Linked DNA regions of Homo sapiens. The protein of the gene in region 1 purifies or fractionates together with the protein of each later gene. This does not show direct contact. Each region holds a gene or a part of one and is shown on either strand. Other genes may lie near its edges.

Region 1 (5,288 bases):
ACGCACTTCCTTCTCCTCATCCATCTTAGAGAGTAAAAAAACCCGCATATGTCCTCAAAGGGAGCTGGGGTGTGGATTCTAAGTCGTAGGGGGATATAGGATTTTAACGAGAATTGGTGAGAACATGAGGTCCCAGAGCCACTGGCTCCAGCTATGCAGAGTCCCTCTCGGGGACTCCCTGGGGCAGGATCACTTCGGATTCTCGGATTCCTTGCCCGGAATGTTCCGCGACCAGGGACTCGGCTAAGGGAATTTGCCTTAAAACAAAGAGAGGAGGGCCCTCTGAGAGAAGTCTGCACCATCCCGCAGAATGGAAATTTGTCCCTAACGAATCGTTATCAATCCAAGCGCAGTGAAGGACGGATTTCTTGTGCTTATGGAGGGAGTGGTTTCTGCCCTCCCGGCTGTTGGCCAGGACAGCGAAATGGTGAGGGATGGAGGTGGGGCTGGATCCCAGGTGAGAAGGAGGCGCTGCAGGGGTTGGGACCCATGGTGCAGTCCAAGGAGAGCGCTCTCCTTCCCTTCCGGCTTAGCTCTCTGAGCTCCGCGACGCTTGTGCGCCACGCCGGAGCGGGACAATCGTTAGCGCGCACCTGGCTGGCATGCAAGGCGGGCTCTCAGCGGAGCTGAGGGTTCCGAGAGGCACTGGCTGAGCTGTAAGGCGAGGAGCCGGCTCGGACCCTGCAACTGGATCCCCAACCCTTCCCAGAAGGGAGGCCCAATCCGGGTTGGCGCCTGTCTACTCCAGAGCGAAGGCCTCTGGGCTCAGAGCCACGGGCATTTCTAAGAAAAAAAAAAGTTTATTTAAAATTTTGTACATAAATAAATAAATAAATATCTTCTGGCATTGCAGAGGCCGTACAATTACACAGCTAGGCTGGGGCGGGCCAGAGTCTGGAGGGGGAAGAGTGGGGTCGCCAGCGGCGCAGAGCGGGGTCCTATGTTTAGAGGAAGGAAGAGCGTGTTGGAAACAGAGCAAATCTGTTTCCCCAATATGGATACTACGGGCGAAATTTATCATCTGTGAGAGGAGCCGTGGGGACTGAGGACAGCAAGGCCAGATCAAGGGACAAATGGACTGACTGAAGGAGGAGGCTCCCTGAGGAGGGGAAGGGAAAAGGAGAAGGAAAAAAAAAGTGGGGGTTCATAAATGTGTGTGTTGGCGGGCGGGGGCCGAGTGAATAAATGATCACAGGAAAGAGGTGGGGAGGGACAAAAAGACATTTTAAAAAGAGAAGCGAACGAGCATCCAAGGCCGCCGACCTTGACCGAGAGCGGAGGAGAGTAGAGTAAGCGAGGAAGCCCAAGCCAGCCCAGAGAGGGCGGGCTAGGAGGCGCCGGCTGCCAGCAAGGCGCTGCGCCAAGCAGGCTTGCGGGCGGGGGCCGCGGTGCTGCACTGCCCAGGAGGACTCGAGCGCTTACAGTGTTCACAGCTTGGAGTTGGCTTTGGACACGAGCGAGCCCTGGGGCGGGGACGCCATGGTCCAGTCTCTGCCAAGCTCTCAGCCCTGCCCAGGCCCGGGACCTCTGCAAAGCAGTGCCAAATCCATGCCAGGCAGTGGTTTGGCTGCGGGTGCCTGGGAATCAGCGCTGAGTCCCAGGACTAGTCTCCGAGGCGCAGGGAGGTCTTGGGGTGGGCGACCTAGGGAGACACGCGCCTAGGGAGTGACCGTAAGATCCCGGTCGTCCTTCCCTGAGGAGGACGGAGACATGGGCAATTCGTCGTCATCCTCGGAGCACTTGGCTGAGGAGAGCGATGCGCACTTGCAGCCTTGCGGTGCGCTCCCGCCACCACCGGCACCCCCGCCGCCGCCGCCACGATGGTTGCTGCCCTTGCCCTCCTTCTTGTGCTTCACTCGGCGGTTCTGAAACCAGATCTTCACCTGCTTCTCGGACAGATTCAGGTAGGTCGCGATCTCGATGCGACGTAGGCGGGACAGGTACATATTAGAAGCGAACTCGCGCTCCAGCTCTAGCAGCTGCGTGCTGGTGAAAGCCGTGCGCATCCTCTTGCTGCTGGGCAGCTGGTTAGAGCTGCTGTCTGGAGGTGGCAGAGCAGAGAAGGAAGCGATCAGACCTCTGTGCTGTGGACCCAATCCCTTGGTAGGCGGTCGCCAGAATCCTACGACTTTGACCTCTTACCCATCTCTTCGCCCCAACACAATCCACAGCAGAGCTACAGTGAGCGCTCCTTGTCCAGCTCCGAGATCCTGATTCTCCCGGAGTCATGCAGCCCTGGAACCCCTTCCCCTTCATGGAGAGCCTTGGATCCCAGCCCTCACTTACCCCGGCCCACACTCCAGGACCTGGACGTCTGCCCTCATCCGCCTCCTGGCGTTGTGTCCCGGCCCTCTATCCTCACTCCACCCCAAGCGCCCCCCTTAGTCCCCGACATGACCCTCACCGCCCCCAGAAAGCCCAGGGTCCCTCTTCCTCCATCTCTGGCTCTCCATCCTGCTTCGGATCACCTCTGCCCGGTCCCTCTGCGCGGCGGCCCCGCTTACCCACAGAGATGCAGTGGAACTGCCTGGGGTCAGGCAGCGGGTAGGAGGTCTGGTAGAGCGCGGCGGCAGCAGCAGCGGCGGCCGGGCCGTGAGCGACCCCGGGCGACACAGCAGAGTGCTGGCGGCCCAGGGGCGCGTGGCAGTACTGCGAGCCGAAGGGTGGGAAGGAAGCCTTGAGTAGAGGCAGCGCGGGCGGCCCGGGGGGCCCATGCAGCTGCGAGGCGGTGACGCAGAGCGGGCACACGCACAGCAGCCCAGCCTTGCGCGCGTGGCAGGCGCCAGGCGAGAGACCGTGCAGCGCGTGCGGCGGGGGCACAGCGTAGGGGAAGAGCGGCGGCGGGCTGCCCTCGGGCGCCTTCTTCTCGCCCGCCTCGCGCAGCACTAGCGAGTCCACCAGGAAGGAGCGCGGCATGGCCCCGGCGCGCGGTCGCCCCGCAGCCAGCCCGCCCTCTGCGCCCACCGCACCTTTCGGCTCTCCACGCGCTTTCCCTGGCCGCGGTATCCCGCAGCTGCCTCTGCCCAGGAGGCTGAACGCGCGGCTGAGACCTAGGCTGAAACAGTAGCCTCTGCTGCCGTGGGCACCGCCCAAAGAGCGCGGGGTGCTGGCCAGCGCTAGTGGTGCTGAAAGGCGCCGGCGGCGCGGCTTAAATAGGACTATTGCCATGTGATGGACTACGCCAGGAGCGGCCGGGGCCTCTCAATAGGGTTTTTGTGCCTTTTCTCTTGGCATTCACTCTGCACGCTTCCTCATTATTTCACTTGTTAACTAAATGAACTGCATAATGTACTCTATTCTTGTCAACCCCACCCACGCCGTAACAGGCGCCCTCGCCCCCTCCTCTCCCTTTTGCGGGTTTATTTTCTCATTCTCCCGCGATTTAATATTCTTTCCTTTCTCTTTATTTCTTACTCCCCTTTGGCTTTGCATTGGCCATCAGCCCGTTCACCTTACTGATTTTGCACCCCCGCGGCCTCTCTTCTACAGATCCCCATGGGCGCACACCCTCATATCCTCTGTCCACTTGGTCCTGGTCCCCTTCTTTCTATTATCGCCCTTACACCCCAAAAGTATGCTGTCTCCAGTCAGCCCTGTCAGCTCAGTGCCGTGCACCCCCGAACCTCCCTCCAGCCGGTCTCAGATTTTCCACCTGTGGAATCGCTTCTCTCTCTGCGTCGGAAGAAGGAGGACCGGGTTCCCGCGTGAAGGAGGCGTCTGTGGGGAGGGAGGAGAAGGGCTCATTATTCCTTATCCAGCCCTAGACCCATCGCTGTCCCTCGGTTTTCTCTAAGTTTCTCAAATAGTCTTAATTTTGGTGCTGCCTACGACGCCCAGTCTTTGTTCGGTAGATGCTGGCCAACCAGCCCTTTCCTTCAAATGACAGGGCCGTGGATGTAAAAGAGGAAAAACAGTCTCTGAGCGTTACGAACAGAGACAGGGAATGGGGAATGAAAGCCGAGATGGCGCAGATCTAGATCTCGCACCCCAGCACATGTGGCGAGTGCGGACTGTCTGCCCGCGCATCTTGCCCACACCCTGTCTACTGGAGCACACTTCCAGCAGTGCGCTGGGAAACCGCTGCCATCTCTTAGTTTGGAACGGCGCGAAGGGCGGTTGTATTCCTGGCATCGGCTGCCTTTGCCCACCCTGACCCGCCTCCGCTCTCCCCAAGACCCGGCTTCTTCTTCCTGCCGCGTCACTCTTCTTTCTGGTCACACAATGGTTAAACAACTTCAAACGCTCAGAGCTGTGTACACAGCTCCAGCTTTTTAAATCGTTCTCGGGCTCAAAGCTGTTTCGCCCAGGAGCTTTTTCCATACAATGGGAAATCAGCATAAACATTTCTAATTTACAGCCCGGGACTTTTCACAGGAGACGTTTACTTTCGATTTTATTGGAACCAAATCGCTGCAGTCACCTGCTCTGAGCCCTGAATGGAATTGTGAGAAATGGAGGGGGAAGCTTAGGGGTCTGGGGAAGCAGTGCGCAGGAATAAGATTGCCCAAACCCGAAGCATCTGCATGGGCTTTTATCCTTGGCAACATCTTTGCAATAACAACAGCAACAGATTATAACTGATTAAAAAGCAAAGATAATTTGTTTTGCGAGATAATAACTGCTTCTGTAAAAGGGAATAGGACAATGGGAGAAGTAACCTGCATGGAGGGCATGGCATCTAGCAGGAGTAAGGGTTCAATGTTTTCTTGGTTGCTTGGCATGGAGTGGGGGGCAAGGCTGCCCTCTGAGACAGAGTCTCAGCGCCAAGGCTCCCCCACTCTAGGGTGGTGCCTGCAAACCAGCCGGAACGCATCAATGCAGCCTAATTCCCGTTCTAATTGCTCTCTGGGAAATTTGAGCTGGGCTGGGTCGCTGAGAGGAAGCGAAGAGCGAGACCCGGGCGGGGAGAGGGGCTTTCCGCTGGGCAGAGGCAGGCTGGAGGGGCGCAAGGGCGGGCGGGGCCCAGGGGTGCAAGGGGCGGGCACTGCACCCGGAGCTGGGAGCCCGCGAGTGGCCAGCGTGGAGCTCCACTGGCAGCCGCCCCGCGTGCCCGGGGAGGAAGGGGTTAAGAGCCCCTGAATGCGAGCAAGGCCAAAGCTACTGGGAAAGAATATGGGGGTGGGGGTGGGGGTGGGGGGAATAACCAGGTTTTTTTTTTTTTCCTCTCTCCAGCCTCTGGACCTTATTGAATGTCATTGAAGAAAGTTTTGAATGCCAGATAAAGAGAGGCGAATTAAAGTGTGTGACAGCGAAGGATAAGCAAACACAAAGAGAACTCTGTCACACTT
Region 2 (4,354 bases), on another chromosome or scaffold:
CCTAGAACCAAAAATATTTGAAGAAAAAAATCCACAAAGTTCCAAAAAGCAAAACTTAAATTTTGCCCCATGCTAAGTACTAAGTTGAATCCATGTGAATGAAGTGATGAGTAGGCACTGCATTATGTATTACAAGTAACCTAGAGTTACTTGTAATTTAAAGTATACAGGAGGATGTGCATAGGTTATATGCAAGTACTATCTGATTTTATATAAGGGATTTGAGGCCAGGCATGGTGGCTCACACCTGCAATCTCAGCACTTTGGGGAGGCCAAGGTGAGAGGATCGCTTGAGCCCAGGAGTTCAAGACCAGCCAGGGCAACATTGTGAGACACCCATCTCTACAAGAAAAGGACAAAAAAAGGTAATTGAGCATCCAAGGATTTTGGCATCCAAGGGGGTTCTGGGAACAATTCCCATGGATACAAAATGACAACTATATATTTCATATTATACCACAGGGATATTAAAAAAAACCTTGAATAAATAGAAAATGGAATAAACATATATTTTTCTTAAAGAGAAAGGCTCAATCAGCTAAAAATGTTGATTTTCCCTAAAATATATCTTTTATATGATCCCAATTAAACTATCTACAGGATTTTTTTTTTTTTTTGAGATGGAGTCTTACTCTGTCGCCCAGGCTGGCGTGCAGTAGTATGATCTCAGCTCACTGCAACCCCCACCTTCTGGGTTCAAGCAATTCTCCTGCCTCAGCCTCCCGAGGAGCTGGGATTATAGGCACCCACCACCACGCCTTGCTAATTTTTCTATTTTTAGTAGAGATGGGGTTTCACCATGTTTGCCAGGCTAGTCTCAAACTCCTGACCTCAGGTGATCCACCCACCTCAGCCTCCAAAAGGTCTGGGATTACAGGCATGAGCCACCACGCCCGGCCTACAGGATTCTTTTTAACATTATAAAATGTTACTGGCTGGGCATGGTGGCTCATGCCTGTAATCCCAGAACTTTGGGAGGCCAAGGCGGGTGGATAACTCGAGGTCAGGCGTTCAAGACCAGCCTGGCCAACGTGATGAAACCCCATCTCGGGCAACCCGCTCGGGTCTCTCACACTGTGGAAGCTTTGTTCTTTCGCTCTTTGCAATAAATCTTGCTGCTGCTCAAAAAAAAAAAGAAAGAAAGAAAGAAAGAAACCCCATCTCTACTAAAAATGCAAAAATCAGCCAGGCATGGTGATGCACGGTTCAAGAATCGCTCGAACCCAAGAGGTGGAGGTTGCAGTGAGCCGAGATCACACCACTGCACTCCAGCCCAGCCTGGGTGACAGAGTGAGACCTCGTCTCAAAAAAATTAAAAAAAAAAAAAATTGAAGTTCCATTTCACTCAGAATTATATAAGCGTAAATCAGAAAAAGATATCATTTTCACATCATAGATTAGCAAAAAGTAAAAGCTCAATAACACCCAGTTTGGACAAGTACACAGGCATCGCATGAAGTGTGGGTAGCCATATAAACTGGTACAACTTTTTTAGGAGGCAAATTGGTAATCACAAAAATTAAAAATGAAAGCTGGTCTCGGTGGCTCACCCCTGTAATCCCAGCACTTTGGGAGGCCGAGGCAGGCAGATCATCTGAAGTCAGGAGTGCGAGACCAGCCTGGCCAACATGGCGAAACCTCGTCTCTACTAAAAATACAAAAATTAGCCAGGCGTGGTGGCACAAGCCTGTAGTCCCAGCTACTCAGGGAGGCTGAGCCAGGAAAATCGCTTGAACCTGGGAGGCAGAGGTTGCAGTGACCCGAGATCATGCCACTGCACTCCAGCCTGGGTGAAAGAGCAAGATCCTTTCTCAAAAACAAATTAAAAATGAACATGCCACTTAACCTAATATTTCTACTGCCAAACATTTACCTTATGTTGTTATTTTTCCACCAGTATGTAGGTATACAAACAGATATTTGCAAGAAGGAAGAAATGGACATAAGAAAAATTTCCATCAATAAAGGATTGGGCTGGGCATAGTGGCTCATGCCTGTAATCCCAACACTTTGGGAGGCCAGGGCAGGAGGATCACTTAAGCCTAGGAGTTCAAGACCAGCATGGGCAATATAATGAGGCCCTGCCTCTACAAAAACATTTAAAAATTAGGCCTCAGTTTCCATATATGTGAAGTGAGGAATGGGGACTGTGTTTTCTCTTGGCCTCCTTCCAGCTGTGATGGTCTGTGAATCTCCTGGAAGCCAGCTCTGGGTCCAGTCCTGTCTTGGGGAAATTAGACCAGAAAAGCACAGAACATACACAAGAACCCAACAGCATCATCTGATACAAGCCCATACTCCCACTGGCACACAGTATCTTTGCTTACCTAATTACATGCACGCACACGTACAGAGGCCCTGTCTCTACAAAAAAATTAAAAAATTAGCCAGACATGGTGGCACATGCCTGTAGTCCCAGCTACTCAGAAGGCTGAGGTGGAAGGATCACTTGAGCGTAGGAGGTAGAGGCTGCAGTGAACTGTAATCACGCCATTGCACTCTAGCCTGGGCAACAAAGTGAGACTCTGTCTCAAAAAAAAAAAAAGAGGTATCAGTTGTAAGCTGGTAAGAACGATACAGTGGAGAAGGAAAATTTGAGGACACAAGAAAGAGAGGAGTAATTTCAAGAGGAAAGTCTTTTTTTTTGAGACGGAGTCTCGCTCTGTCGGTCACCCAGACTGGAGTGCAGTGGGTGAGAGGGGATGGGATCCAGGGCACCAGTGAAGGGTTGGCCTTAGGGGCAGTGACGTATCATTTGCATAACAGAAGACTGCTGATTTCGGGGAGGGAGCACATACAAGTTTCCTGATTGCTCCTATTTTCGTTTCCTTTTTTTTTTTTTTCCTTTGAGACAGTCTCCCTCTGTTGCCCAGGCTGGAGTGCAGTGGTGCAATCTCAGCTCCCTGCAACCTCTGCCTCCTGGGTTCAAGCAATTTTCCTGCTTCAGCCTCCCAAGTAGCTGGGATTACAGGCGCACACAACCATGCCCAGCTAATTTTTTAAATATATTTTTAGTAGAGATGGGGTTTCACTATGTTGGCCAGGCTGGTCTCGAAGTCCTGAACTTCTCAGTGAGTAAACTTCTCAGGAAAAGGGAGAACGTGGAAAGATGTACTGAGCTTTGAGGAGAGAAGACAAATTGTGAAATAATTATCTGAAAGAACTGGTAAATGAATCAACCAGGGAAACACAGAACCGCCAGGTATTGCCAAGGGTCCCTTTTGGGGTCTGTGGTTATAGATTTAAAGTGAGACAAGTCAACAAAGCTATGCATTTTTCTCCAGCCAGATTCAGCTATCCAAGTGCAGGTGCAGAACAGTGGATTTAACTGGCAAGTTACTATAGGTGAAATGGTGGATTAACTGGGTTGAGAACAGAGAGAGACAGAATCAACGGGGTTAAGGCAGTGATTACAATTAGAAGCCTTAGAACCTGAGGTGAGGAGGAAGGGCAATGAGGACCCGAGGGATGTTGATGGAAGATGCAAAAGTGAGAGGGTCGAGAGACTGAAGGTACCTGAGGAGTCAGGGAAGTGCTGAAGTGGAGAAGCTAGAGAGGGGAACAGAACTGGAATGACAGGAGGAGGTCAGCAGATAAAGGGAAACTTGAAATCAAGATTTTGGAAGTTGTGCGTTATTTTGTTAATGACACAGTCTAAAGCATGAACAGAGGAGTGGGATGCTGAGATGTAAGAAGACAAATCTTTTTGGAAATGAGGAGTTGAGAAAATTGAAAGGCCCAGATGTTGGATGAATTGTCTGTGCGGATGCTGAAGCCACTGAGAATAACAACAGAAGCAGTGATGAGAAGAAAACAGTGAGCCAGGAGCTGAAGAGCTGTAAGGAGCGCAATAAGAAGAATGGCAGGTGGCAGATGATCTTCCAAGGCGCTGGGAAGTCTTAGAAAGAAGAAGAAACTAAAATCTAGAGATAATGGAAAGCAGAGAGGTCACTTCCTCCATTTCCAGGCCCAGAGGAAGTTGAATTTAGGAAAAAAAAAAAAAAAACCACAATCACTGCTTGACAAGGATATAAGGAATGCTGTCCCTTCAGGAGAGAACCTGAAGTTTCCAGTAAAAAAGATGAAAAAGGAAACGTCTGGCTGGGCACAGTGGCTCATGACTGTAATCCCAACACTTTGGAAGGCCAATGCAGGAGGATCACTTGAGGCCTAGAGTTTGAGACCAGCTTGGGAAACACAGAGAGACCACATCTCTACAAGTAACTTAAAAATTAGGCCAGGCGCGGTGGCTCACGCCTGTAATTCCAGCACTTTGAGAGGCCGAGGCAGGTGGATCACCTGAGATCAGGAGTTCGAAACCAGCCTGGCCAACATAGTGAAACCCCGTCTCTAC

What was found.
Region 2: the proteins of GSX1 (region 1) and S100A13 purify together in Homo sapiens (affinity purification with mass spectrometry; one large-scale study listed by BioGRID and IntAct). This does not show direct contact.

The regions. Positions count from the first base shown.
Region 1 is NC_000013.11:27,790,319-27,795,606, reverse strand, and holds GSX1 (GS homeobox 1), read right to left. Parts: upstream 3,125-5,288; 5' UTR 2,917-3,124; coding exon 2,505-2,916; intron 2,042-2,504; coding exon 1,659-2,041; 3' UTR 839-1,658; downstream 1-838. UniProt on the Homo sapiens protein: Probable transcription factor that binds to the DNA sequence 5'-GC[TA][AC]ATTA[GA]-3'. Activates the transcription of the GHRH gene. Plays an important role in pituitary development.
Region 2 is NC_000001.11:153,620,558-153,624,911, forward strand, and holds part of S100A13 (protein S100-A13), read right to left. Parts: intron 1-4,354. UniProt on the Homo sapiens protein: Plays a role in the export of proteins that lack a signal peptide and are secreted by an alternative pathway. Binds two calcium ions per subunit. Binds one copper ion. Binding of one copper ion does not interfere with calcium binding.